Regions from separate parts of the Homo sapiens genome. Here regions 1 and 2 are each linked to region 3. Evidence: fine-mapped expression QTL. A gene starts in region 3. Each other region holds a variant in brackets. All regions are shown on one strand. Distances are between the middles of the regions. Region 1 overlaps ERCC2 (ERCC excision repair 2, TFIIH core complex helicase subunit). Region 2 has its middle 25 kb from the start of CEACAM20. Region 3 holds the start of BCAM (basal cell adhesion molecule (Lutheran blood group)).

Region 1 (8,735 bases), 550 kb after region 3:
GTACCTGCTCATACCAGGAGGCCACGGTGCTCTCCATGTACTGGTAGCTGGTGAAGAAGGCCACGATGCCATCAGGGACCACAGCGGACATCTCCAGCAGGAGGTTCCCATAGTTCCGGATCACAGCTGCAAGGGGTCAGAGGTTGGGCCCTCTCCTGGCCCAGGTCCTCCTCCCTTCTCTGTCTTAGAACTAGGAGTTTCTGGAAACCCCACTGAGGCTGCCTGTCAGGCTTTTCACACATATCCCCCTCCTCCTCCTCCCGGGCGTGTCTGAGGACCCGCCTTGCCACTTCCTGAAGTCACACCTGGCTATGTGATTTGCCATGGCCAATGAAATGAGTGCAGAAGGGGCCGGGCGCTGTGGCTCACGCCTGTAATCCCAGCACTTTGGGAGGCCGAGGCGGGTGGATCATCTGAAGTCAGGAGTTTGAGATCAGCCTGGCCAACATGGCGAAACCCCATCTCTACTAAAAATACAAAAATTAGCCCAGCGTGGCGGCAGAGGCCTGTAATCCCAGCTACTCGGGAGGCTGAGGCATGAGAATCGCTTGAACCCGCAAGGCAGAGACTGCAGTGAGCCGAGATCATGCCACTGCACTCCAGCCTAGGCAACAGAGCAAGACTCTGTCTCAAAAAAAGGCCATGTGTCACTTCCAGGGGAGCACCCTTAGGAACCAGTGCACAATACACTGTGACCACTGTGATCCCACCTGTCACATTATGCTGCCTCTGACACACCCAGCGGTGGAGGTTCCCAGGTGAGGAGACACAGGGCAGGCCCCTACCAGCTCACAGTGGACGTGTACCACGGGCAAGAAGGAAACTCTGGGCTGAGCAACTAAGGCCAGGGATATTTGTTACAGCAGCATGACTCAGCCCACCTGACTGATACACCTCCCCTCTTGGAACCCACAGAAACCAGCCCCACTGGCAGCATACCAATATCCTCCCGGGTCTCAAATTTGGAGCTGATGGCCACCTGGTCATTGCCACGGCCGATGATCTGGAGAGCAACAGAGGTCACGATAAGCGAGGCAGCAGCAACTGCTCCAGCGTGAGTGCTGACCACCTGCTGGTGCTGTTCTAAGCTTTTTTTTTTTTTTTTTTTAAAGAGAGACAGGGTGTCACCATGTTGCCCAGGCTGATCTTGAACACCTGGCCTCAAGTGACCATCCCGCCTTGGCCTCCCAGAGTGCTGGGATTACAAGCATGAGCCACCACACCCAGTCTGCTCTAAACTTTTTATAAACACAGTGTCATTGAATGAACCCTCAGCAACCCTGTTATCTGCATTGCACAAATGACCTGGGCTCAGAGAAGGTGAGTTGCCTGCCCAAGGTCACACAGCAAACAGGTGGCAAAGATGGAACCGGACCCGAGTCTGTCCACACTCTCCAACAGCAGCTACACTCTAGCCAGCCCCAGGCCCTGGGCCAGCCGGATCCCGAAGAACACCCCTCGCCATGCCGGCGGGCATCCCACCAGCCGGCAACCTCACACAACCACCATGCAGTGGGGGTCATTACCGGTCCACAACCTCTGACAGGCAACTCCAAAAGCCAAAAGCTCTGAACACATTTCTTTTTCAAGTTTGGCACAAACTCATGAAGCAGCAAAACCTGCCCTGCCCCGAGTCTCTCCAGAGGCCTGACTTACTCCTTAGTGTGATGCTTCCCAATCTTTTACTGCCGAAATGGGAGTTTGACTCGGGGGAGCTGCCCAGACCCCACTGTGGGCATCACACACCACACAGCATAGGCCTTGTCTCTAAAGGCTGGAAAATTCTGAATTCCAAAACAAATGGCTGCGCGCAGTGGCTTACACCTGTAATCCCAGCACTTCGGGAGGACCAGGCGGGCGGATCACTTGAGGTCAGGAGTTTCAGACCAGCCTGGCCAACGTGGTGAAACCCCGTCTCTACTAAAATTACAAAAATTAGCTGGGCATCGTGGCACATGCCTGTACCAGCTACTCAGGAGGCTGAAGCATCAGAATCACCTGAATCCAGGAGGCGGAGGTTGCAGTGAGCTGAGATCCGTGCCACTGCACTCCAGCCTGGGCAACAGAGCAAGACTCCGTCGCACAACAAAAACAAAAAACCACATCCAGCCTGGGGACTTCAGATAAGGGACTGAGGGCTCATGTTGACATGCACGTGTTACAGAGACGGAGACGGAGAGGAAGGCTCACTTACCTGGGTCACAGCCAGACCACGTACTCGGCAAGATGCTAAGATGCTGACTAAGCGCCTACCTGTGCCAGGCCCTGGGCGACCTAAGTGGTTTACCCCAGTTCTCTCTCTCAATCCTCTCAACCACCCTGGGAGATCAGGGAGGATACATTCCCATTTCACAGATGAGAAAACTGAGGCTTGAGAGTCGAGCCCACAGAGAAGCAGAATCAAGCCTAAGTCTGTCTGAATCCCGAACCCAGCCTCTTCGCTGTAAAGCTCTCCTGCCTGAGCAGTGGGGGAAGCCAAGGAAGGAGGGCGGCCCCTTGCCCCCATCTCCCCTCCCGGCCCCAGCCCTAGCCTCTCCCACTCACCATAGGGCAGAGGCAGACCCGTGCCAGCGTCATGGTGAAGGTTGCCATGGTGACGGGGTGGAAGTCCAGGATCTTGGGGTAGATGTCCAGCGGGGACAGTGTCTGTGGCGGGACAGTGGGAGGGATCTCAGCAGGACTGGGCAGGGACCAGGAGGCCCATGGAGGGAGGTCAGGGACTAGGAGGGGACGGGGAAGGGTCCTTACCCCAGATGTGATGATGACAGACTGGAAACGCTCAAATACGGGTTTGATGGCCAGCGAGGCGTCCATGCAGCTGGAGAGAGATGAGGGCAGTGAGGGCCCGGGGGGCTGGGCCCCCGACCCACAGAGCATTCACACCCTCACCGGGCAGGGTCCCACCTGAAGTGCAGGATGGGGTTGGCAATGGTCGGGGTTCTGTCGTCAAAGGGCTCGATGATGATGGTGAAGCCTGCAGAGGGCAGGCAAGGAGGGGTGAGATTACCCCACTACAGCCACAGCTGCACCCACTCAGTCATTCCCTCTCCTGCTCCCTCGCTTCACCCCAATCTCCACCCCGTACTGCCTGGGAGTAAATGCGACCAAACATGACTGCTTAAGCCCCAAACCAGGCATCTGAGTCCAAAATACACCCCAACCTGTCCGCTTCGGGCCCACACCTGTGCAAACTTTCACGAAGGATCCCAAGTAGAGAGCCCACAGCCCCGCCCACTGCTCACTCTCCCAGCACCGCATGGGCTGCCCAGCACCCACGCCAAAGCCAGGAGCCAGAGCCTCAAGCTTTCTCCCATGACCTTTTCTTGTTTTTGTTTTTTGAGATGGAGCCTCGCGCTGTCGCCCAGGCTAGAGTGCAGTGGCATGATCTCGGCTCACTGCAAGCTCAGCCTCCTGGGTTCAAGTGATTGATTCTCCTGCCTCAGCCTCTTGAGTAGCTGGGATTATAGG[G/A]ACACCCCCCTACAACACACCCAGCTAATTTCTACATTTTTAGTAGAGATGGGGGACCTGCAGTGGTCCACCCGCCTCAGGCTCCCAAAGTGCCAGGATTACAAGTATGAGCCACTGCACCTGGCCTCCCACGACCTTTCTACCTAAGCCATCAGCAAAGCCGGGCAGCTCTGCCTCCAAAACCTACCTGCAATTCGCCCACTGCCCCCGACCCCACGCGGGGCCAGCCACCATCACCTCCTGCCTGGACCCATCATCCCCTGCTCGCTTCACGGCAGCCAGAGGGACCCTAGGGAAACCTGAGTCCCTGAGTCCAGCCATGTCACCTCCCCGCCCCAAGAAGCCTCCCATGGCCCCCACATGCCTCCAGTGGCCTGGTGCCTGACCTTCAAAAATCAGCAGGCTCAGTCCCCCCAGGGCCTTTATACTTGCTGGTCCCATGTGGCCTGGAAAACCTCCCAAGGCTGCTCCATTTGGTCATCTGAGACTGCTCAAAAGTCAGCCCCTCCGAGAGGCCCTCCCCAGCCACCTTTTCTACGCAGACATATTCCAACACAACAATGTATTTTTTTTCATGATAACTGTCACTTTCTGGAATTATTTCCTTGTTTATTTGGCTGCATCTTTGCTACTGGTTTTCCCATCTGGAATATAAGTTCTGGGGGGTTAGGGATGAGATCTTTTTTGGTTCCTGCTGCTTCCACAGTGCTGAGCCTGGCCTGTTTGTTGAAGAAATAAATGAATGAATGAATTTACATATTCGGTTTCACACAGTGAAAAAAAATCAAGTCCTCTGTGCTGGGGACACAGTGGTGACCAAGCCAGCCTTGCCCCTGCTCGCATGGGTTCGCAGTCCAGTAGGAGACAGACTTGTCCTCAGATAGTGATGACTGAGAGTGGGCAGTGCTGGGACAGAGGTGCCCAGAGGAGGGGCCTGACTCAGCCTGGGGGTCAGGGAGGGCTTCCTGGAGGACAAGACATCTCTACTAAGCTGAGAACCTAAGGATGAGGGGGAGGTGGTTGGGGGATGAGGAAGATGAGGAAGGATGATCCAGGTGAAAGACCATGAGGTGTTGGCAGATGGGAAATAGTGGGTAGAGAATGACAAAGGTAGGGATGGAAGATGGGGCAGGACAGAGAGACAGAGGCAGAAGCAGCAGCCAGCCGGCCTCGCTACCCAGCCCCAGGGCAAGGGCCCAGATCTCCATCCTCCTGTCAGGCCCTGCCGCAGGACATGAGGCCCGATCTGGTTTCCTGGGTACAGGAGAAACCCCCAGGAGGCAGACTGAGCCCCTGGTCAGCTTCACGCTGAGGATGGGGAGGGAACACCGGCCCATAAAGCCTCCAGAATGATGTCCCTCTCTCGTAACCTGAAAATCTGAACATCAGCCTCTACTCCTCTTGTCCCTGGTCCCAAAACCCAGGCACCACGCTCCCCATATCCCAGCCTCTCTACCTCCCACATCTCTCTCCAAACCATACCTTTCTCTCTCCCCATGGCCACATCCTGGCCAAGGCCCCTCCCCTCCTGCTCAGGTCCCTGCCTGCCACCCAGTCTCCTGCCTCTAGTCCCTGCCAGAAGAACTCTTTTTTTTTTTTTGAGACAGACTCTCATTTTCACCCAGGCTGGAGTGCAGCTGGTGTGATCTCGGCTCACTGCAACCTCCGCCTCCCGGGTTCAAGCAATTCTCCTGTCTCAGGCTCCTGAGTAGTTGGAACTATAGGTGCGTGCCACCACGTCCAGCTAATTTTTGTATTTTTAGTAGAGACGGGGTTTCACCATATTGGTCAGGCTGGTCTCGAACTCCTGACCTCAGGTGATCCACCCACCTCAGCCTCCCAAAGTGCTGGGATTACAGACATGAGCCACTATGCCAGGCCTATTTTTTTTCTTTTTTTTTTTTGAGACGGAGTCTTCGCTCTGTCGCCCAGGCTGGAGTGCAGTGGCACGATCTCGGCTCACTGCAAGCTCTGCCTCCTGGGTTCACGCCATTCTCCTGCCTCAGCCTCCTGAGCAGCTGGGACTACAGGCGCCCGCCACCACGCCCAGCTAACTTTTTTTGTATTTTTAGTAGAGACGGAGTTTCACCATGTTAGCCAGGATGGTCTTGATCTCCTGACCTCGAGATCCGCCCGCCTCGGCCTCCCAAAGTACTGGGATTACAGGCGTAAACCACCACGCCCGGCCTTTTTTTTTTTTTTGAGACGAAGTCTTGCTCTGTTGCCCAGGCTGGAGTGCAGTGCCACAATCTTGGCTCACTGTAACCTCTGCCTCCTGGGCTCAAGCAATTCTCCTGCCTCAGCCTCTCAAGTAGCTGGGATTACAGGAGCCCACCATCACACCTGGCAAATTGTTGTATTTTTAGTAGAGACAGGGTTTCACCATGTTGGTCAGGCTGGTCTCAAACTCCTGACCTCAAGTGATCTGCCCACCTCGGCCCCCCAAACTGCTGGGATTATGGGCGTGAGCCACCATGTCTGGCCCCAGCTAATTTTTGTATTTTTAGTAAAGATGGGGTTTCGCCATGTTCACCAGGCCAGTCTCGAACTCCTGACCTCAGGTCATCTGCCTGCCTAACCATTCCAAAGTGCTGGGATTACAGGCATGAGCCACTGCGTTCAGCACCCAGAAGAAATCTTTCCAAAGCACAACTCTGGGCCGGGCATGGTGGCTCACGCCTGTAATCCCAGCACTTTGGGAGGCCGAGGCCGGTGGATCATGAGGTCAGGAGATCGAGACCGTCCTGGCCAACATGGTGAAACCCCACCTCTACTAAAAATACAAAAATTAGCTGGGTATAGTGGCATGCGCCTGTAGTCCCAGATACTCGGGAGGCTGAGGCAGGAGAATTGCTTGAACCCAGGAGGCAGAGGCTGCAGTGAGCCAAGATCACACCACTGCACTCCAGCCTGGCAACAGAGCAAGACTCCGTCTCAAAAAAAAAAAAAAAAGCACAAATCTGACCTGGCACCTTGCTTGCTAGAATCTGCCATGGCTCCCCAGTGCCCTCAGGAGCACAAAGATCAACTCATTACCGTGCCCTCTAGTGTGAGCTGACCCCATAGAATTTCTCTGGCCTCCTCCCTTACCACTGCCCATGCCATCCTTCTCCACTCTGCAGCCCGAGGAAGTCTGTGAAAATGTAAATCTGAGCACAAGGCTTACTCAAGAACTATGTATGGCTCCCCACTGCCTTCAAAATAGGGCCCACACTTCCAAGCCAAACCCCACAAAGCCCTGTGTGTCCTGCCAACAACCCTCTAGACCCTGCTGGGACCCTGATTCCAGCTGCTAGGAGGCCCAGCAGGGACAGAAAAAGGTGAGCTTACCTTTGGCGTAGGTGCTGACAAGGGTGGCAAAGTTAGCAAGGAGGGTGAGCGGGGAGAAGTCAGCAAGGTCGGTGATCTCCAGAGTATGCAGCAGGGACCGGAGGCGTTCAGCACAGAATCTGGCGGGGAGGAGAGACGGGGTCGGGGGGCAGACGGAAGCATGAGCAGGACCAGCAGCCCTGCCTCCGCCATCACGACGGTCACGTGCCTGTCTCCCCAGCCAATGAGCACTCAGTGAGGGTGGGCACTGGGCCTGTTTTGGAAACTTGCACCCCCACGCTGTACACCTGCATGTCACAAATAGCCATTGCCGCATAATGGCACAGACAGAGCAATAATCAGACACTCCAGAGTCATGTGGTCACTTGTCACACCTGCTAGCACGACCTCCTAAGTGGGTTCTTTTTTTCTTTTTCTTTTTTTTCTTTGTTCAGATGGAGTCTTGCCCTGTCATCCAGGCTGGAGAGCACTGGTACCATCTCGACTCCGCCTCCTGGGTTCAAATGATTCTCCTGCCTCAGCCTCCCAAGTAGCTGGGATTACAGGTGCCTGCCACCACACTCAGCTAATTTTTGTACTTTTAGTAGAGACGGACTTTCACTATGTTGGCCAGGCTGGTCTTGAACTTCTGACCTCGTGATCCACCTGCCTCAGCCTCCCAAAGTGCTGGGATGACAGGTGTGAGCCACTGCACCTGGCCCTAAGTGGGTTCTGATCAAAACAAGAGACGCACAATCACACCCAGAACCCCCCAGTCATGGCATTAATCCCGCATGGCCACATGGTCACGCATTCACACCCAGAGCCTCTCCCACTGCCTCTCACGCACCTATGGGGACACACACGGTGTCGGAACCCCATGGGCTCACAGAGGAATGCAGTCAACACCCACATCCCACAGAGTCCCACGGATACCACGTCCACACACTCACGCATGTGCAGGGCCACTCGGCCACAACCACACACAGGCAGGGCCGAGGCAGGGTCATAGAGCAGCTGGCTTTGAAGCCAGGTGGGCAGTCACACTTGCAAACCTGCCTCCCGCACGTCAGCCCTCCCAGCCTGGCTCCTCTAACCCCAGGCGCCTACCCCGGCTGGTCGCTAGCTGAGGATGAGTCTGTCCCCTCCACTGGGCCATGGAGCCTCTACGGCTGTGTCCCCAGCATGAAGCAGGCACTTGGGGAATGTGTGTTGAGTGACTGAGATCCCCTCTTTGCCCTCACAAGTCTCCAATCCTGGGGAAGATGGGCAAACCCACATGGAAGGTGGCCTCACCCACAGAGGCAGGGCAGCCAGGGCCTTTGGAGCCCACAGGCATGGCTTCAAGCCCCAACTACCGGGCACAGTGCTGTGTGGCTCTGGGCAAAGGCTTCCCCTCTGGGAGTCCCAGTGTCCTCATTTGCAGGGTGGGGATGCTGTACTGGGGGTGCAACTGAGGTAAGGAACATAAAGGGCTTAGCTCCTCCTTAGTGCTCAGGGCAGGGTAGGTGATTGGCTTCGCTGCTCTCTCATTAACCCACCAAAGAACCCTGTGAAGTAAAGACCCGACTCCTTGGCCATTTTACAAAGGAGGAAACTGCAGTTCAAAGAAGACCCATGACTTACCCAAAGGAAAAGCCCCCTCGTATCCCTTGGTCATTCTCTGCCTGCCCTGTGCCTCAAGAGACTGACTCCCCCAAAATGCGCCCAGACTACTCCATGGGGACGCCCCTGCCCTCAGGTTTGGAAGATTAGAGGCATCGGTGGGAAGATACATGGGCCGGGGACACCTCCTCCAGCTCCCAGCCTGCGAGGCCCTGGTACTGGTTTCTGCTCCCAGCAGAAGCCCCTGTCCAGGCCCCCACCAGTTGGTTCTCAACACACTCCCTCCCTGCCGCTGTGGCCTGGCTTAGCTCCCAGCTCTCACCTCCCACCCTCCTTGGCTCCTCCCCCAGCCC
Region 2 (10,388 bases), 250 kb before region 3:
CTGGAACCCTAGGAATGATCAGCAGCACGAATAGGCTGGGGACCTTGGAAACACCAGCGTTGGCTTTGCTGTTTCCAAGATGACCAATAAGCACACACACACACACACACACACACACACACACAGCCAACAGCTCTACTTCCGGAAGTTCTTAACTGTCTAGAGATCCCAGATCCTCTCCCCAGAAATACACCCAATAACACACACACCACACAAATACCTACACATTTGTATATAATTTCAAGGGGTTATGGGGCACTCTAAAGACCAACTTTAGATTTCAAGTGAGGAATCTTATACCTAGATTACAAATTAGTAAATATCTTTCTTTTTTGAGACAGGGTCTTGTTCTGTTGCCCAGGCTTCAGTGCAGTGGCACTAACACGGCTCACCATAGTCTCAACCTCCCAGGCACAAGCGATCCTCCCGCCTCAGCCTCCTGAGTAGCTGAGATCCATGCATGTCACCATCCTCAGCTACTTTTGAAAAACTTTTGTAGGGTGGGGTCTTGCTGTGCTGCCCAGGCTGGTCTCAAACTCCTGGGCTCAAGTGATCCTCCTGTCTTGACCTCCCAAAGTGCTGGCCTGACAGGAAGTAAATATCTTTCTTGAAGTCAACTTAGAAATACAAGTTGAAAGTTACACATGTTTATATAACTTTTGACCCAATGATTACACTTTTAAAAACAGTTTTATTGAGGTATAATAAGCAAATAAAAATGTTGTATGTTCAAAGTGTACAACTTGATGTTTTGATAGTTGATCTCTACAATCAAGCTAATTAATATATCCATCACCGGCTGGGTGTGGTGGCTCAGGCCTGTAATCCCAGCTCTTTGGGAGGCTGAGGAAGGTGGATCACCTGAGGTCAGGAGTTTGAGACCAGCTTGGCCAACATGGTGAAACCCCGTCTCTACTAAAAAATACAAAAATTAGCCAGGTGTGGTGGCACGCACTTGTAATTCCAGCTACTTGGGAGGCTGAGGTGGGAGGATCTCTTGAACCTGGATGGTGGGGGTTGCAGTGAGCCGAGATCATACCACGACACTCCAGCATGGACAACAGAGTGAGACTCCATCTCAAAAAAATGAAAAAAAAAAAAAGGAAGAAAGGAAAAAAAACTGCTGGATGCTTGCTTGCATTGCTTCCATTGCTTGCACTGCAAGCATTATCTCATGTACTACTGGTACCACCCTGTGCTGTAAGGACTATTAATATCCCATTTTACAACAGGTAAACTGAGGTTTATGTTGGGTAAGTGAGTTGTGAAAAACCAAGTTGTAAGTGGGTGAATCATTTTTAAACTCAGGGCTATGTGACTCCAAACTTCATAACCACTGTGAAATAAATACTATGTAGAAAAATCTATTTTTAAAAAATCTCAGAAAATGAAGCAGGCACAGTTTTCCCTATTCCATCCCGAGCACAGTTAAAAACCTTGGATATTATCACTTCTACACTGCTGGTGGGAATGTAAACTAGTACAGCCGTTATGAAAAACAGTGTGGAGATTCCTTAAACAACTAAAAGTAGAACTACCATTTGATCCAGCAGTCCCACTACTGGGTATCTACCCAGAGGAAAAGAAGTCATTACACAAAAAAGATACTCGCACACGCATGTTTATAGCAGCACAATTCACAATTGCAAAATCGTGGCACCAACCCAAATACCCATCAATCAACAAGTGGATAAAGAAACTGTGATATATATATATATGTTCATATATACGTTCATATATATATGTTCATATATACGTTCATATATACGTTCATATATACGTTCATATATATACGTTCATATATGCGTTCATATATGCGTTCATATATATACGTTCATATATGCGTTCATATATATACGTTCATATATGCGTTCATATATATACGTTCATATATACGTTCATATATATACGTTCATATATGCGTTTATATATACGTTCATATATGCGTTCATATATATGCGTTCATATATATGCGTTCATATATACGCGTTCATATATACGTTCATATATACGCGTTCATATATACGCGTTCATATATACGCGTTCATATATACGCGTTCATATATACGTTCATATATACGCGTTCATATATACGTTCATATATATACGTTCATATATACGTTCATATATATACGTTCATATATATACGTTCATATATATACGTTCATATATATACGTTCATATATACGTTCATATATACACGTTCATATATACGTTCATATATACGTTCATATATACGTTCATATATACGTTCATATATACATTCATATATATGTTCATATATACGTTCATATATATGTTCATATATATATATATATATATATATATATATATGAATGATGGAATACTACTCGGTCATAAAAAGGAATGAATTAACAACATTTGCAATGACCTGGATGAGACTGGAGACTATTATTCTAAGTGAAGTAACTCAGGAATGGAAAACCAAACATCATATGTTCTCACTGATATGTGGGAGCTAAGCTATGAGGACACAAAAGCGTAAGAATGATACAATGGACTTTGGGGACTTGGGGTGAAGAGTGGGAGGGGAGTGAGGGATGAAAGACTACAAATAGGGTGGAGTGTATACCGCTCAGGTGATGGGTGCACCAAAATCTCACAAATCACCCCCAAAGAACTTACTCATGTAACCAAACCGACCTGTACCCCAATAATCTATGGAAAAATAAATAAAATAAAATAAAGCAATAGAGAAAAAGCCTCAAAAATATGAACAGAACATCATTGTTCTATGGGAATAATATCAAGCAGTCTATCACAGGTGCAGCTAAAGAATGAATAAATAAATAAATAAATAAATAAATAAATAAATAAATAAAAATAGATGACTCGGAAAGGAGGAGAGAATATGGCAGACTGGCTGCGGATCTCAAGACCGGAGAAAGCACATGGTGGTGAGTTTTCTGGACTTTCTTTGCGCCTCACAGATCCCAGACTGGGAGCTGGAGAGCCTGGCAATCTAGAAATGCCAATGAGTGTAGATCCAAAAGAGGCTCAAGCAAAGCCTGCTCTAGCCAAAGGACAAGGAGCAGTAGCCTGACAAGATTTGCTAAAGACAGCAAATCTTTACAAGATAATCACTTTGCTGCTGTGATATCCCACAGAAAAGCCTGGACATTTACCCTTGCCAGCTGTACAGAGACACCCATCCCCTCCACCAGGCTGAATAAGCAGCTGGGACTGTCATCCTTGCCCAGCAGTAATGAGCACCGACCCTGCAGTGTCCATTGAGGCCACTAGGGAGCGGTAACGAGGCGTCTCTGCCCCTTCTGGGCAAGATGGTATCAGAGGATGTCTCAGTGGAAAGCCTGAACTCTGCTAACTGCCCAGAGTAACAGTTGCCCCGCCCCACCTGGAATGTCAACAGAGGCCAAATGGGGAACCTGGACCTCCATCCCCACTGGCTATAACAAGATGGTGCCCTTTTTGCCCCACCAGCAAGATGTCAGAGGAGACCTGCTATAACAGAAGATTTAAATGAGATCCAGCGTCTCATAATTTCCAAAATGTCCAGGGTGTTGTTGAAAATCACTTGTCATACACCTACATGTAATCCCAATACTTTGGGAGGCCGAGGTGGGAGAATTGCTTGAGCTCAGAAGTTCGAGACCAGCGTGGGCAACATAGTGAGACCCCATCTCTACAAAAAAAAAAAAAAAATTGACTGAATGAGAAAGACATTCCTGAAATTAAATGAGGAAAGACAATTAATAGAGATGACATGGATTGTTGTTGATGTTTTCTAACTTGGTCTTGAGTTTTCTAGGGGATTTAGTTGTAGATGTTTAAAGTGTAATTTTCACTGGTTACTTCTTTATCTTGGTGGTCGGCCTAATGCCTACATGTCTGACCTGTGACCAGGTGTCCCTCTCACAGTACACTTATTTTTTGTGTGTTTGTTTGTTTTTGAGACAGAGTCTCACTCTGTCACCCAGGTCGGAGCGCAGTGGTATGGTCTTGGCTCACTGCAACCTCCACCTCCCAGGTTCAAGCAATTCTCATGCCTCAGCCTCCTGAGTAGGTGGGATTACAGACATATGCCACTACACCCAACTAATTTTTTTTTTTTTTTAAGTACAGACGGGGTTTCACCATGTTGGCCAGGCTGATCTTGAACTCCTAGCCTCATGGGATCCTCCCACCCCAACCTCCCATAGTGCTGGGATCACAGGCATGAGCCATCACACCTGGCCACAGTACACTTGTTTATAATGGCAGACATTCTTAAGGCTTTTGTCTGACCTGTGTCCAGTTTATTTCTACAAAGAGAGCCATGCTTTAGGACAGCCCTGACCAGGAAAGACGTTAGGTTTGGATGTGTCAGTCAGGTGAGACACAGAGGAGGCAGCACAACAAAACACATGAAATAACAGGGGCAGTTTATTACTCACAGATTCCGGAGAAGACAGAGCAGCACATCTCACAGAGCCAACAGGAAGAAGAGAGTTGTCGGGACACGCACACTCAACCAGCGGGTGGGGAGCAAGAAAGAGAAAGTGAGAGACCTGTGGGCTGATGCTTTTATTGGAGTCTAAGGAAACTGCTCAGGCAGTTTTCCACAGAGAATTCTAACTGGGTTTAGAGCCAGCAGGCACAAGTTGCATGGAGTCACACTGACTGGGAGGTGATCACTGTGGCATATCTGCACAGCCTATGCAGGGTCTGGGGGTCAGGGGGACAGTCAGGTGAGTTATATCTAGCTGTTGCATAAGGAGGTGGTTAACAGGAAGTGGTAGTGTAAGGCAG[G/T]TATCTGGATCTGCCACATTAAGGATCTGGGGGGAGGCGGAGACCTGGAAACTGTGTCAAGGGTGACTAAGCTTTTCTTATGGTATGAGAAAGTCCAACTTATATTCAAAATAGATACTGAGCCAGGCACAGTGGCTCACATCTGTAATCCCAACACTTTGGGAGGCTGAGGCAAGAGGATTGCTTGAGCTCAGGAGTTTGAGACCAGCCTGGGCAACACAGTGAGACCTCCGTCTCTACAAATAAAATTTCAAAAAATTAGCTGGGTGTGGTGGCATACGCCTATAGTCCCAGCTACTTGGGGGACTGAGATGAGAGGTTCACTTGAGCCCAGGAGCTCGAGGCTGCAGTGAGCCGTGATTGCACCACTGCACTCCAGCCTGGGTGACAGAGTGCGACCCTGTCTCAAAACAATAACATTTCAAAAATTGATACTGAGTTTCTATAAAATTGTAAGAATTCACTACACTGATGTTAGAATTGTCTTAAAAGAATCTTAGAGCAGCCAACATAAAAATGCTTCAATGAACAATTACAAACACTTGAAATAAGTGAAAAACCAGAAAGTCTCAGCAAAGAAATAGAAGATATGAAAAAGAACAAGACGGAAATTTTAGAATGGAAAAGCACAATAACAGAAATTTTTTAAAAACTTAATGTTTGAGCCCAGCTGCAGAATGGAGATGACAGAGATAAAAATCAGTGCAGATAAAAGTTACCAAATCTGAACAACAGAAAGAAAATAGACTGATAAGAAGTGAAGAACAGAACTTTGGGACCTGTGGGACTTTAACAAAAGAGCCAACATTCATGTCATTGGAGACCCAGAAGGAAAGGAGGAAGTGGGTATAATGGCTGGTTTCCCAAATCTGGTAAAAGACATACATCTATGGAATCAAGAAACTGAGTAAACCCCAATGCCAGCGTGGTAATCAGGATTCTAAATATAGTCCTTCCAGATTTCTGTTCCTGATTGTTCAATCAAATGCTAATCTAGGTATTGCTTTGAAGGGATTTTGTAATTAAAGCTCAAAGTCAGCTGATCTTAAAATACAGATCATCTGGGTGGGCCTGACCTGATCAGGTGACTCTTTTAAAAGCAGATCAGATGAGAAAGTCAGAGAATCAAAACACAAGGAGGATTCAATGCATCCTTGCTGTCTTTGAAGATGCAGGGGTCAATGTGTGAGCAGGGTAGAGTGGCCTGCAAGAGCTTAGAGCACCCGCAGATGACAGCCAGCAAGGAAACAGACCTCAGTCCTACAACTGTAAGAACCTGGATTCTGGCCAGGCACAGTGGCTCATTCCTGTAATCCCAGCACTTTGGGAGGCCGAGGCAGATGGATCACGAGGTCAGTAGATCGAGACCATCCTGGCTAACATGGTGAAACCCCGTCTCTACTAAAAATACAAAAAATTAGCCAGGCATGCTGGTGGGTGCCGGAGCTTGCAGTGAGCCGAGATCGCCCCACTGCACTCCAGCCTGGGCGACAGAGCGAGACTCCATCTCAAAAAAAAAAAAAAAAAAAAAAAGAACCAGGATTCTGCCACCATCTGAATGAGCTTGGATATGGGTTCTTTCCCAAAGCCTACAGGTAAACCCCAGCCAACTCACATCACACCTTGATTTTGACCTGGTGAGAGAACCCAGTTGAGGACACTTGGACATCGAGGTACAGAAACTGAAATAGTAAATGTTATTCACTCTCTTAGTTCACCCAGAATCAGACTCTGCACTAGAATGTAAGTGCAATTAGTTTATTATTTATTTATTTACTTTTTTGGAGATGGAGTCTCGCACTGTCGCCTGCCACCACGCCAGGCTAATTTTTTGTATTTTTAGTAGAGACAGGGTTTCACCATGTTAGCCAGGATGGTCTCGATCTACTCACCTCGTGATCCACCTGCCTCAGCCTCCCAAAGTGCTGGGATTACAGGCGTGAGCCACCACACCTTAGTGCAATTAGTTTATTTTGGAGAAAGCATTGGCAGAGGTGTGGGAAAGTAAGTAAGGGAAAAGAAGGAAGCCATATAGAAAAATTAGCTCTATAGAAAACTGGAGCTCACCTCTGAAAACTGGTACAAAACACACCTCTGAGGGCCGGGCGCAGTGGCTCACGCCTGTAATCTCAGCACTTTAGGAGGCTGAGGCAGGCAGATCACCTGAGGTCGGGAGTTTGAGACCAGCCTGACCAACATGGAGAAACCCCCTCTCTACTAAAAATACAAAATTAGCCCGGCGTGCTGTCACATGCCTGTAATCCCAGCTACTCAGGAGGCTGAGGTGGGAGAATCACTTGAACCTGGGAGGCGGAGGTTGCGGTGAGCCAAGATCGTGCCATTGCATTCCAACTTGGGCAACAAGAACGAAACTCCATCTCAAAACAAAACAACAACAACAAAAAATAAAACCACCTCTGAGTTGTTCCCCCTAAGTTCAGGGGAATATATCTACCAATTCCTTCTTGGTGTTAGTTAATGGTCACTCCCAGGATGTTAATTTCTCTGACATTTTCAGCCTGCCCTCAGTTGGGGCTTGCATCCTCTTGTACTCAGAGAAATCAGAGAGGCACAGACACTCATGGAAGGGGTTGCGGAAGTACTCACCACTCTCTTTCAGTCATTTCGAGAATTTCTCTTCTTTCATCATTCAGTCGTCCTAAAAGTCCTGTGTGTCAATAATAAATTACACCCACTGAAAGGAAGACGTATATTTACATTTCATGGCCTTTCATTTTCTATTAGTGTCCCCTTCATTCCACTCCATCTTATTATTAGAATGATTCTACCAGTGTCTTTCTGGAAAATAGGTGTAGGAATAAATTTATTCTAAAAAATAAAACAACATCTACGCAAAGAGGTCTTAAAACCTTCATAATTAGCTCTATAAAACAATTAACTCCAAGAAGTAATGCTGAATGCTTTCCAAATGCATACTGACAGTAAGAAAACATTATCAAATACCCACATTTGCATTTTTTCTAGACATGGTTACAGACCTAAATCCCTCAGTTGATCAGCTTGAGGGACCAAATAAATCTCTGTTATCGGTATAGCAACAGCACTTACTTGTTTTGTAGCAGTCAGGGCATACCAAAGTAAGATCAAAGAAAAAATAGAATCTCACGAAATATATTTTCTCAAGGTAAACCCTCACCAAATTATAATTGAATGATTAGTCTGGTATAATTTTAGTAGAAAAATTATAGGAAAAAAAAGACAGGACAAAATATGATAATTGAGTTGGCAAAGATCAACTCCTAAGCAGCTAATTTAGTGTTCAATAAAACCCAAAAATGCAGAAGCATGATTTTCCCATTTATAGTATGTTCACATACTATAAATGAGTTATTTTAACCAATTTAGAAGTAAGACCTGGCCAGGCATGGTGGCTTACACCTGTAATCCCATCACTTTGGGCGGCAAGACAGGTGGATTGCTTGAGGCCAGGAGTTCGAGACCAGCCTGGCCGACATGGCCAAACCCCGTCTCTTACTAAAAATATCAAAATTAGCTGGGCGGGGTGGTGCATACCTGTAATTTCACCTCCTCAGAAGGCTGAAGCATGAAAATCATTTGAGCCTGGAGGCAGAGGTTGCAGTGAGCTGAGATTGCACCACTGCACTCCAGCCTAGGCAACAGAGGGAGACTCTCTCAAAAAAAAAAAAATAGGCTGGGCACGGTGGCTCACGCCTGTAATCCCAGCACTTTGAGAGGTCAAGGCGGGTAAGGTGGGTAGATCACAAGGTCAGGAGTTCGAGACCAGCCTGGCCAATATAGTGAAACCCGTCTCTACTAAAAATAAAAAAATCAGTCAGGCATGGTGGTGTGTGCCTGTAATCCCAGCTACTCAGTAGGCTGAGGCAAGAAAATTGCTTGAACCCGGGAGGCGGAGGTTGTAGTGAGCAGAGATCCTGCCACTGCACTCCAGCCTGAGCGACAGAGCAAGACTCTATCTCAAAAAAAAAAAAGGAAGTGAGACATAAGTATTGTATTGTATCATGATAAAGCAATTATTTGGCATTACACCTTAATGAATTTTATCCAGTCAATTTGCCTTTGTAGACACAGAGTGATTCATGTAATATGATATGTAGCATAATCAAGTTTAATCTCTGTAATAATGGTTGTTTATCTGTAGGCTATAGTTGTAAAAGAAGAATAAATAAATAAAGCAATCTATCAATCTTGATCAAACAATGTAGCCCACAGTTGATTCAGATGTTACAATAATGTAGTTGGTACAACTCACTGGGCAGCATATACCATGAGCACTAATGAAAAATAAAAATCATGGCAAGGCGCGATGGCTCATGCCTGTAATCCCAGCACATTGAGAGGCAGAGGTGGGCGGATCACCTGAGGTCAGGAGTTCGAGACCAAGCTGGCCAACATGGCGAAATCCCATCTCTACTAAAAAATACAAAAATTAGCCAGGCACAGTGGCTCATGCCTGTAATCCCAGCTACAGGGGAGGCTGAGGCAGAAGAGTCGCTTGAACCCAGGAGGCAAAGGCTGCAGTGAGCCGAGATCATGCCACTGCACTCCAGCCTGGGCAGTAGATTGAGACTCTGTCTCAAAAAAAAAAATGAAAAATGAAAAATGAAAAGCAACTGCATGAAAGTCAATTCAGTTTATGCCTAGCCTTCATTAAAGACCAACAAGAAAAAATAACAAAAAAAAACAAAAAATAAATGTTTCAGTGAAAATCTCATTTGGGCTCTCATCTACAGGACAGAGTGTAGATGGAAAATACATGTTTGATGTAATAACTGATCTTGTGATATACCTTTATGATTGTAAATAGTTGATATATTAAGAAATAATAGTAAAATAAATGTTATTTTAAGCCTCCAAATTTGTGATAATTTTGTTAGGCAGCAATAAATAATAAAAAAAAAAACTAATACACCCAAACAGAATAAACCCAAATGAATCTATGCCAGGGCATATCATAATCAAACTGTTGAAAGCTAAAGATGAATTTAAAATCTTGAAAGCAGTGAAAGACAAATGATACCTTACCCATAGGAAGAAAACAATTTCAATGAAAGTAGATTTCTCATCAGAAACTATGAAAGCCAGAAGAAAGAAGCATAACATTTTATAAGTTCTAAAGAACTGTCAACCCAGGATTCTATAACCAGCGAATGAAAAAGATGTACATTTATATGTATACATATAAAATATGTATATATGTATATAAATGTATATACATTTATAGGTATACATATAAAATATGTATATATGTATATAAATGTATATACATTTATAGGTATACATATAAAATATGTATATATGTATATAAATGTATATACATTTATAGGTATACATATAAAATATGTATATATGTATATAAATGTATATACAATTATATGTATATATTATGTATATAACCATTCAAGAATGAGAGAGATGTACATTTTAAAATAATTAAAAGAGGCCGGGTGGGGTGACTCACTCCTATAATCCCAGCACTTTGAGAGGCTGAGGCGGACAGATCACTTGCGGTCAGGAGTTCGAGACCAGCCTGGCCAACATGGCAAAACCCCATCTCTACTAAAAACACAAAAATTAGGCAGGCTTGGAGGCTGAGGCAGGAGAATTGCCTGAACCCA
Region 3 (10,388 bases):
CTGGGGAATCAGGATTGGAAAGTGAGCAGGAAGAATCCTGGCAACTGGCCAGCAATGGTAACCCAGCCACAGTGACACCACGGAACCGGTCTGATGAGGCCATGCTGGCGATGGCCACTAGACACTGTAGTTGTCTCGCTGCCTCTGCTGCCCCAGAAATAGGATATGGCTGCTCTTCTCATTAGCTGTTGCTGGTAATAAATCACTTCACAACTTAGCCGCAAATGACAGCAATCATTGCATTAAGTCTCATGGTTGCTGTGGGCTGGGATTTGAAGAAAGGCGTGGCTGGTTTGTTTTGGCTCAGGATGCAAACAAACAGTGCAATCAGTGATGCTTGCCACAGGGCGGCTGGGGGTGCTGGACAAGTGGGCATCTCTCTGTGGTCTCAGGGCCTCCCCCACCATATAGTCTCTGCACTGGCCAGCTTGGGCTTCCCCACAGCATGGCTGCCTCAAGGTAGTCAAACTTTATATGGCCGCTGAAGACCCAGGCAGAAGCTGCATGGCCTTTTCTAGCTCATTTTGGGAGTTCCGCAACTTCACTTCAGCTGAATTCTGTTGGTTGTATGCAAGTCACCAAACTGCACAGATTTGAGAGGAGGGTGCCATAGACCCCAGCTCTTGATGGAAAGAGTATCAAGCTCTCATTGTGGAAACACACATGGGATGAAAGACACTGTCACAACATGGCAAAACCCCATTCCTACAAAAAAAAAAAAATTAACTAGGAGTGGTGGTGCACACCTGTACTCACAGCTACCCAGGAGGCTGAGGTGAGAGGATCACTTGAGCCCTGGAGGACGAGGCTGCAGTGAGCCATGATCATGCCATTGCACTCCAACCTGGGTGACAGAGCAAGACCCTGTCTCAAAAAGAAAAAAGAAAGAGATTGTTGTAGCCGTCTTTGGAAAACAGAATCTGTCCCAGCTGCCATGCATGGCTGGAAGAGGTGGCCAATTCCTGATATTCAAAAGTGTGGAAGGATTTGCCAAGCTTAAGTCACCTTAGCTCCAACAGATGCAGGAAAGCAAACATCCATTCTTGTTGGCTTCAAGAGTGGGCAACAGAGGCTTTCAGACAGTAGGAATTTCCTTAAATGTGGGAAGGAGCTGCAGATGCTAGGTAATCCTTCCCGCAAAATATGTACTATAGCCCGCTCCTTTGGTTTTTTTTGTTGTGTTTTGTTTTTTAGACAAGGTCTCACTCTTTCACCCAGGCTGGAGTGTAGTAGCACGATCTTGGCTCATTGCAGCCTTGATCTCCCCAGTTCAAGCGATCCTCCCACCTCAGCCTCCTGAGTAGCTGGGACTACGAGCACAAACCACCACCACCCCCGGTTAATATGTATTTTTTGTAGATACAGGGTTTTGCCATGTTGCCCAGGCTGGTCCCAAATTCCTGGGCTCAAGCGATCCACCTGCCTCAGCCTCCCAAAGTGCTGGGATTGTAGGTATGAGCCACCACAGCTGGCTTTGAATGTTCAATATCAATAGGCCCTTTGCAGAAGTTCTTATCGAAACTTTCCCCGCACAACCGTCTCTCATTGTACAATCAAAAAATGCATTCACACTGCCACCCAATACAAAAAATTTCAATAGTTCCATTTTCCAGATCTGAGACTGGAATCAGGGAAGAACCATTCCCCTCCAAATATGTCATTCTCCCCATATTCCACAAGCTGTGAGCTAGTTGTAAAGTTAATCGTCACACACTGTGTGAAAAATAATGGGAAAAAAGGTCAAGAAAAGATAAGTCAGCCAGGCACTGTGGCTTCCGCCTGTAATCCCAACATTTTGGGAGGCTGAGGCTGGTGGATCACCTGAGGTTAGGGGTTCGAAACCAGCCTGGCCAACATGGTGAAACCCTGTCTCTACTAAAAACACAAAATTAGCCGGGCATGGTGGCGCATGCCTGTAATCCCAGCTACTTGGGAGGCTGAGGCAGGAGAATTGCTTGAACCTGGGAGGCGGAGGTTGCAGTGAGCCAAGATCACGCCATTGCATTCCAGCCTGGGCAACAAGAGTGAAACTCTGTCTCAAAAACAATGAAAAGGTAAGTCTGGCCAACCGTGGTGGCCCACACCTATAATCCCAGCACTTTGGGAGGCTGAGGTAGGAGGATCGCTTGAGCCCAGAGTTTCAGAAAAGATAAGCCTTGTTAGTTAAAATATGTGAGGATATACACCTGCGGCCGCATGGATGGAATTAGAACTTTTTTTTTTTTTTTTTTTTTTTTTGATACTGAGTCTCGCTCTGTCACCCAGGCTGGGGTGCAATGGCATGATCTCAGCTCACTGCAACCTCCACCTCCTAGGTTCAAGCAATTCTCCTGCCTCAGCCTCCCGAGTAGCTGGGATTACAGGCACCTGCCACAACCCCTGGCTAATTTTTTTATTTTAAGTAGAGAGGGGGTTTCACCATTTTGGCCAGGCTGGTCTCAAACTCCTGACCTCGGGTGATCCACCCACCTCGGCCTCCCAAAGTGCTGGGATTGCAGGCATGGGCCACCATGACTGGCCATTTTTATATTTTTTTGTAGAGACGGGGTTTCGCTATGTTGCCCAGGCTGGTCTCAAACTCCCGGGCTCAAGCAGTCCTCCCGCCTCAGGCTCCTAAATTGCTGGGATTACAGACGTGAGTCCCTGCGGCTGACCTGGACCTCAGCTTTTACCCTAAGTGAGACAGAAGTCATGGGAGGACCCTGGGGCAGAAGAGTGACATGAGTTGATTCACATGTAAAAGGAATCCTTCAGGCTGTTTTGTGAGAATAAATTACAGGGGACAAAGGCAGATGATGTTACAAGACTAGTTTCTGCAAGTCTGCAAGGGTCCACGGCTGCTGTTTTGGTGTTTCTGACTTTTCTCCTTCATACACATGCCATAGAGTTCTCCTCCCTCACCCAGAACCTCAGATGGCTAGGTTCTTCTTTTTTTTTTTTTTTTTTTTGAGACAGAATTTCACTCTTGTTGCCCAGGCAACATCGTGCAGTGGCACGATCTCAGCTCAGTGCAACCTCCACCTCCCAGATTCAAGCGATTCTCCTGCCTTAGCCTCCTGAGTAGCTGAGATTACAGGCATGTGCCACCACGCCCAGCTAATTTTGTATTTTTAGTAGAGATGCGGTTTCACCATGTTGGTCAGGCTGGTCTCGAACTCCTGACCTCAGGTGATCCACCCACCTCGGCCTCCTAAAGTGCTGGGATTACAGGCATGAGCCACAGCGCCCAGCCTCAGCTGGCTGGGTTCTTGAGGGAGGTGGAAGTGGGCGATGGCTGCTGAGAGGGCATGTACCAGGGTCCAGCCCAAACAGAAGGTGCACAGGCTGGGGACAGAAGAGCTAGGGTATGGGTGTCGGTGCTCACAGTGTGTGAGCTTGACAGCACCTGGGACTGTCTTGGAGTGCCGCCGCATTCCCCATGAGTGAGTTTGTATTGTATATCCTGGGATGCTCCAGTCTGGATGGAATCTGCACGTGAGTTTGTGTGCCTTGCAAACAAACCTTCCCTGAGCACCTGCACTGTGTCTGGTCTTGTGCTGGGCGGGGTGCCCAGGGGAGGAGCCCTTAGCTCACCACAGTGATCAAGACATCCCTGGCCCTGCCCTCACAGGCTCACAGTCCACTGAGGGAGACAGACCTATCCCCAGCCAGGGACCCCCAGAGTGTGCCGGGCTCAGGTGGGGGAGCCCAGAGGGGGAACCTGACCCAGCCAGGGAAGGCAGAGGGGACTTCCTGGAGGAGGGGATGGTACAGTTAATCCTAAAAGGTCTTTCCCAATGTAACAGTTGCTCTGTAGGATGGATGCAGTGGCTCATGCCTGTAATCCCAGCACTTTGGAAGGCAGGAGGATCACTTGAGCCCAAGAGTTGGAGACCAGCCTGGGCAACATAGTAATACCCTGTTTCTATTACCAAAAAAATACAAAAATTAGCTGGACATGGTAACACAAGCCTATAGTCCCAGCTACTTGGGAGGCTGAAGTGGAAGGATTGCTTGAGCCCAGGCGGTTGAGGTTTGAATGAGCTATGATTGCGCCCACTGCATTCCCGGCTGGGCAACAGAGCGAGACCCTGTCAAAAACAAAACAAACAAACAAAAAAAACGTTGGTCTCCTGTATGACCAATGGATAAAGTAACCTTGACCAGTCTAATAACTCCCAGGCTGACCTGTAATCCAAGCCTTCTCTGTATGTCTGAGCAGGCAAAGCCCAGCTCCAGGGCTACCTCAACCCCCAGGCTGATCAGAAGCTTGGGTAACCTCTCCCAGTGTGGCCAGCGACCCCCCACCCTCCCACGTTCTGACCACTGTCCTGGGCAACTAGTGACATCTAGTGGGGGATTTTGTCCCAGTCTGACCTGGCCTGTAGGGGCCTTGGGCAGTCGGACCTGTGACCCACGCTTCCTAGCAGTGGCTGGACTCCTCCCCCTTCCCGCAGGTGCCCTGGCCTCTTCCCCTGCCCTCCTCACCTGCTCTGGCCAGTCTGACTCCTCCCTTCCCCACAAGGTTGGGAGGGAATGAAGGAGAGAGCGGGAAGGAGGAAGGGAGGGTGGCATTCCTGGGATTCCCTGGATAGGGGGAAGAGTGGGAGGGCCTTCCATGGGTGAGCAAGCAGAGAGGGCACCCCGTACCCCACCCCCAGCCCCATCATCGAAGCGGCCTAGGAGGACCTGGATTTGAAGACCATTGAAAATAAGAGATTAAACCGGTTGATTCCAGGCTACTGGTCAGACGAGGAAAGCAGCCCAGAGCACTGACCACAGGGGAAAACATCTCCGGGCATACTGGGAGCAGCTGCTGGGGGCCACTGGTCAGGCTGCGGGGGTCACTGGTTGGACTGGGAGAGGCCAGTGCAGGCCACTCGGACGGCACGCTTGGGGCCATTAGTTACACTGGGAGAGGCCATCGCAGGCCACAGGTTGCAGTGGGGTCCTCTGGTTAAAATCGACGATGCCAGCCCAGGCTGCTGGTCACAGTGGGGACGAGTCCCCAAGGCCCCTGGTCAGAATAACGAGGAGAAGGTCCGCGATTGCCTGGTGAGATCCCAGCTCGGGTCACTGGCTACGCTGGTCGATCAGGCCCCCCGCTGCAGGCGCTGGTCAGTAAGCCCGGACAGCTCTAGGCTTGGGGGCGGACGAGCCCCGAGCCTGGCCCCGTGCACTGGGAGGTCCGCTCCGGGCAGTGGGAGGTCCTGGCCCCGCGCCCGGGCATCGGGGGACGAGGGGGGCCTGGAGGGCGGGGCGGGGCGGGGCTGCCGGGGGCGGGGCCTCTGGCTCCCAGCCCCGCAGCGGCCGAGCTGCAGCCCGGGCTCAGTCTCCGCCGCCGCCGTGAACATGGAGCCCCCGGACGCACCGGCCCAGGCGCGCGGGGCCCCGCGGCTGCTGTTGCTCGCAGTCCTGCTGGCGGCGCACCCAGGTATGGCTCGGGCTGAGGGCAAGGTGGGACTGGGGAGAGGCCCCTGGGGACCCCGGGAAAGCGAGGAGAAAGGGCTTTACCCTGACCCCAGGAAGCAAAATGTGGGGACCCCAAGGAGGAGGGATATGGGAGTGTTGGAAGGTACGCCTTCCAGTGAGAGAGATCTGGGGACAGCCAGGCAGGAGAGCTGGGGATACCCAGGCGGTGGATCAGAGACAACCAGAGAAGTCAGCCCCCTTCCCACTCAGCACCCTGGAATCTGGGTCCCACCTGCCTCCTCCCTCAGACCCTGGAATCTGGGCCCCCAGCCCCTCTTTCCTCAGACCCAGGAGTCCAGGCCTCCAGTGGCTAGAATAGCTTCCCCCAGGGCACAGAGGATCAAAACCCCAGGGCTCTCTCCCTCAAAGGTCCTCAAGTTTTGAGAGGTCCAGGGACCCCTTAGAGAAGCGAGGACCATGTGTCCCCACACCAGCGATCCACATGTATTTAGGAGTTTCCAGAGTCCAGTATAAAGAACCCGCCTCCCTCAGGAAAGGGCTGGAGCACCAGCCCCGGGCAGTGACAGTGGAACAAAGTGTTTCCAAGTGACAGGCCCCCTTCCTGGGGCCTCAGCTACATTTACACACCTGCATGAGGATAGAAGGAGAGGAGGCCGGGGGCTGGGGGGTGGGGGTGGGGGTGCTGGGGACAGAGGGACAGAGAGATGAGAGAGATTGGGGAAGAGAGAGGAACTCTCTGCCTCCACTTGTCTGCAGATCAGACCCAGCCTTAGGCACCAGCCTGGACCCCGTCACCCCTCCCTGGGGACAGGCTGGGGCCAGAGGTGAGCGCTTGGGAATCCAGGCCCCTGGCACACTCATGGTCAACAGTGGGTCCCCAGGGGTAGGGCTGGGCCAGATTGAGCAGAGAAGGGAAGGGAGTTTCTAAGAAGCACTGAGAGCTGATGCCAGGATGCCAGCCCAGAGGGTGAGGGAGGGTGGTGGTTTTTCTACAATAACTACTCCACCAGGCCCCAGCCTCCTCTTCCCTCTGATCCCAGGAGTCCAGGTGCCCAGCTTCCCAAGATCCTGGGCCTCAACCTTATCCTTTTGCAAGATGACTCGACTTATCCCGTTTGCTGTTGTATCAAACTGAGGGGGGCCAAGAGGCGGCTGGGGGCTCTGGCTCCAGGCCGGGCAGGTCTCAGCCAGCCTGTCCCTCCCACATTCCTGAAACCTGCCCAGCCCTGTCCCCCCTCACCGCCCCCACACATCCATCCCGCCTAAGCTCCGGGCCCAGCCGCAGCCCACACCCCAGCCCCTCACTCATGGGAGAGCGGAAGAGACCCAGGGACTGAGTGGTGCAGGTGCAGAGAGAGGCAGAGACAGGGACAGAGATGGAGACCCAAGAGGAGAGACACACGCAAAGGTGGAGACCAGGATGGAGAGAAACATTTATCCATCATCACAGAGGTGGCCCTGCCCAGGGTGCTGGAGGCAAATGGCTGAGCCAGGCCTGGCCCTGCCCTGGGGGGTGGCGTGTGCTCTGTTGGGATAAGCAAAGGCTGGTGCAGTATTACCCCAGGAGTGTTCAGCGGAGGCCACAGGGCCCTGTGCAGCCCAGAGGAGGAGCCCTGAGCTCTGCAAGTGCAGGGAGAGATGGATTTGAGACCCAGAGATGCAGGGAGAAGGGATGGAGGGCGAAAGGATCTCAGGGAGGAGGGGCTGGGGCCTAGACTCCTGGGTCTGAGGGAGGAGGGGCTGGGGCCTGGACTCCTGGGTCTGAGGGAGGAGGGGCTGGGGCCTAGACTCCTGGGTCTGAGGGAGGAGGGGCTGGGGCCTAGACTCCTGAGTCTGAGGGAGGAGGGGACAGGGGCCCAGATTCCTGGGTCTGAGGGAGGAGGGGCTGGCACCTGGACTCCTGGGTCTGAGGGAGGAGGGGCTGGGACCTGGACGCTTGTGTCCTGGGGGAGAGGGGACCCTGTCTGGAGGGCTCTTCCTGTTGGTGTGGTGGATGATAGCTCAGTTGCTCTCTTGCAGATGCCCAGGCGGAGGTGCGCTTGTCTGTACCCCCGCTGGTGGAGGTGATGCGAGGAAAGTCTGTCATTCTGGACTGCACCCCTACGGGAACCCACGACCATTATATGCTGGAATGGTTCCTTGTGAGTGCTTGGGGCTGGGGGGCCTGGAGTCAGGGCACAGCAGGGCAGCAAAGGTTCATTCTCTCATCAGTGCCTAAGGCCTGTAGAGATCCACCAAGCCACACTCCTTGTTACAGATGGGGTCACTGAGTCCCACTGAGGGGAAGGGATCTGCAAGGTGCCCCGTGTCTAGGCACAGCCAAGTCTAGAATGACATTGACCTGCTCTGGACTGCGGGCTCTTGAGAGAGAGAACAGAGACAGACATCAAGAAAGCAGAAGCCAGGCACGGTGGCTCACGCCTGTAATCCCAGCACTTTGGGAGGCCGAGGCGGGTGGATCACGAGGTCAAGAGATCAAGACTGTCCTGACCAACATGGTGAAACCCCGTCTCTACTAAAAATACAAAAATTAGCTGGGCGTGATGGCATGTGCCTGTAATCCCAGCTACTCAGGAGGCTGAGGCAGGAGAATCGCTTGAACCTGGGAGGTAGAGGTTGCAGTGAGCCGAGATCGAGCCAATGCTCTCCAGCCAGGCGACAGAGCAAGACTCTATCTCAAAAAAAAAGAGGAAAGAAAATGAGAGACAATCGGGAGAGGGAGAGACCAAGAGGAGAAGGGATGGGACCGGAATGAGATGGAGAAAAGGAGACAGGAAAAATCAAGAACTGATAGGGAATGGGGGCAGGAGAAGGTGGGGAGGGACAGAGGGACCAGGGAGACCCATAACAAGAGGAAAAGAGGCAGAGCCAGGAGCTGCAGAGAGAAAGGACCCAGAGAGAGAGAGACTGAGGAGCGCTGGGACACCCGGAGCTGAGAGCCTGCCCCGCGCCCACAGACCGACCGCTCGGGAGCTCGCCCCCGCCTAGCCTCGGCTGAGATGCAGGGCTCTGAGCTCCAGGTCACAATGCACGACACCCGGGGCCGCAGTCCCCCATACCAGCTGGACTCCCAGGGGCGCCTGGTGCTGGCTGAGGCCCAGGTGGGCGACGAGCGAGACTACGTGTGCGTGGTGAGGGCAGGGGCGGCAGGCACTGCTGAGGCCACTGCGCGGCTCAACGTGTTTGGTAAGTGTCCTCGGGCATCCCCCGAAGGGAGGCAGGCAGGGAGGGGCGCAGGGCAGGGGCTCCTGACGTGAACGTCTTTTTCACAGCAAAGCCAGAGGCCACTGAGGTCTCCCCCAACAAAGGGACACTGTCTGTGATGGAGGACTCTGCCCAGGAGGTACCTCTCGGGTGGACCTTGGCCCCAGGGTCCTGGAGGAGGAGGGGACAGGGCCCTGGACTCCTGGGTCTGAGGGAGGAGGGGCTGGGGACCCCTGGGTAATAAAGGAGGAGGGGTAAGGCCAGGCGAGGTGGCTCATGCCTGTAATCCCAGCATTTTGGGAGGCAGAGGCAGGCGGATCACCTGAGGTCAGGAGTTCCAGACCAGCCTGGCCAACATAATGAAACCCCGTCTCTACTAAAGATACAAAAATTAGCTGGGTGTGTTGGTGTGCAACTGTAATCCCAGCTGCTCGGGAGGCTGAGACAGGAGAATCACTCGAACCCAGAAGGCAGAGGCTACAGTGAGCTAAGATCACACCACTGCACTCCAGCCTGGGCCACAGAGCAATACTCCGTCTCAAAAAAAAAAAAAAAAAGAAGAAGAAAAGAAAAAAGAAAGGAAGGGCAGAGGGGGAAGACTCCTGTGTCCTAGGAAGGAGAGAGCTGGGGGACCCAGAATCCTTGGTCCCTGGAGGATGGTGCTGGAGGCCTGGACTCTTTAGTCTGAGTCGGGGACTAGGAATTTGGACTCCTGGGTCCTGGGAGAGTCGGGAGTTAGGAGCCCGGCTCATGAGTCTGAGTGGGGAGAACTCCTGAGAGAGGAGCCCCGACTTCAGAGTCCCAGCTCCAAGCCCAGGGCCATGCCCGTGTCTGCCTCAGATCGCCACCTGCAACAGCCGGAACGGGAACCCGGCCCCCAAGATCACGTGGTATCGCAACGGGCAGCGCCTGGAGGTGCCCGTAGAGATGAACCCAGGTGAGCAGCGCAGGAGCGCGGCGGGACGTGGGCTGGGGTGGGTGGCGGGGCTATGGCCTGGCTGACTGCCACCTCCCCCGATCTCTCCCAGAGGGCTACATGACCAGCCGCACGGTCCGGGAGGCCTCGGGCCTGCTCTCCCTCACCAGCACCCTCTACCTGCGGCTCCGCAAGGATGACCGAGACGCCAGCTTCCACTGCGCCGCCCACTACAGCCTGCCCGAGGGCCGCCACGGCCGCCTGGACAGCCCCACCTTCCACCTCACCCTGCACTGTGAGTCTGTGCTGGCCTTTGACCTCTGACCTCAGGCTCCACACCTCATGAGGCCTGACCCTCCACCCGGGGGCTTCACACTCCCCTCTGACCCTCTGCCTCCCTACTTCATGCTAAAAAAAAATGTGCTAGTGCTGGCCACTGACCTCTGACCTCAATTGGTCGCACAAGCCCCATCCTGACCTCTGACCTCCGACCTCCACTTAGCACCCTGGACCCCATGAAGTTTATGACTAAATGGTGCTTTCCACCTTCTCACACTGAATTGGGTCCCCCCATGACATCTGGCTCCAAGTCTCACACTGACCCATCGCCCATACGGACCTCTGACTCTTGACCTATACTCTTAGTTTATTTCAACCTCTGAACTCTGGCACTCAGAATAATTGTGAACCTGAGGCTTGAAACCTATGACCCGTAACCTTTGACCCGCCATAGCCCTCACCTGGGATGCAGGGCTGACCTCTCGCCTGTCCTCTAGCCTTGACCCTTCCCCTGATCACAATTCCCATCTCCCTGCCCTTCCCTTAGATCCCACGGAGCACGTGCAGTTCTGGGTGG

What was found. PIP is the estimated chance that this variant, and not a neighbour inherited with it, causes the effect.
Region 1: its variant is fine-mapped to the expression of BCAM in stomach (GTEx, PIP above 0.99).
Region 2: its variant is fine-mapped to the expression of BCAM in whole blood (TOPMed, PIP above 0.99).

The regions. Positions count from the first base shown.
Region 1 is chr19:45,354,726-45,363,460 of GRCh38, forward strand. ERCC2 (ERCC excision repair 2, TFIIH core complex helicase subunit) reads right to left here. Exons shown (of 23, transcript NM_000400.4): 12 at 6,799-6,917; 13 at 2,905-2,974; 14 at 2,749-2,818; 15 at 2,545-2,646; 16 at 940-1,003; 17 at 5-126. Among named protein-coding and RNA genes, the nearest start is that of ERCC2, 11 kb to the right of the region's middle. RefSeq lists a silencer at 2,570-2,736. The variant G/A (reference allele first, on the strand shown) is at 3,469.
Region 2 is chr19:44,549,225-44,559,612 of GRCh38, forward strand. It overlaps the pseudogene CEACAM22P. Among named protein-coding and RNA genes, the nearest start is that of CEACAM20, 25 kb to the left of the region's middle. The variant G/T (reference allele first, on the strand shown) is at 4,771.
Region 3 is chr19:44,803,794-44,814,181 of GRCh38, forward strand. BCAM (basal cell adhesion molecule (Lutheran blood group)) reads left to right here and starts at 5,310. Exons shown (of 15, transcript NM_005581.5): 1 at 5,310-5,413; 2 at 7,432-7,553; 3 at 8,370-8,598; 4 at 8,685-8,755; 5 at 9,457-9,553; 6 at 9,645-9,827; 7 at 10,359-10,388. The coding sequence starts at 5,332. RefSeq lists enhancers at 8,484-9,030, 9,682-10,214.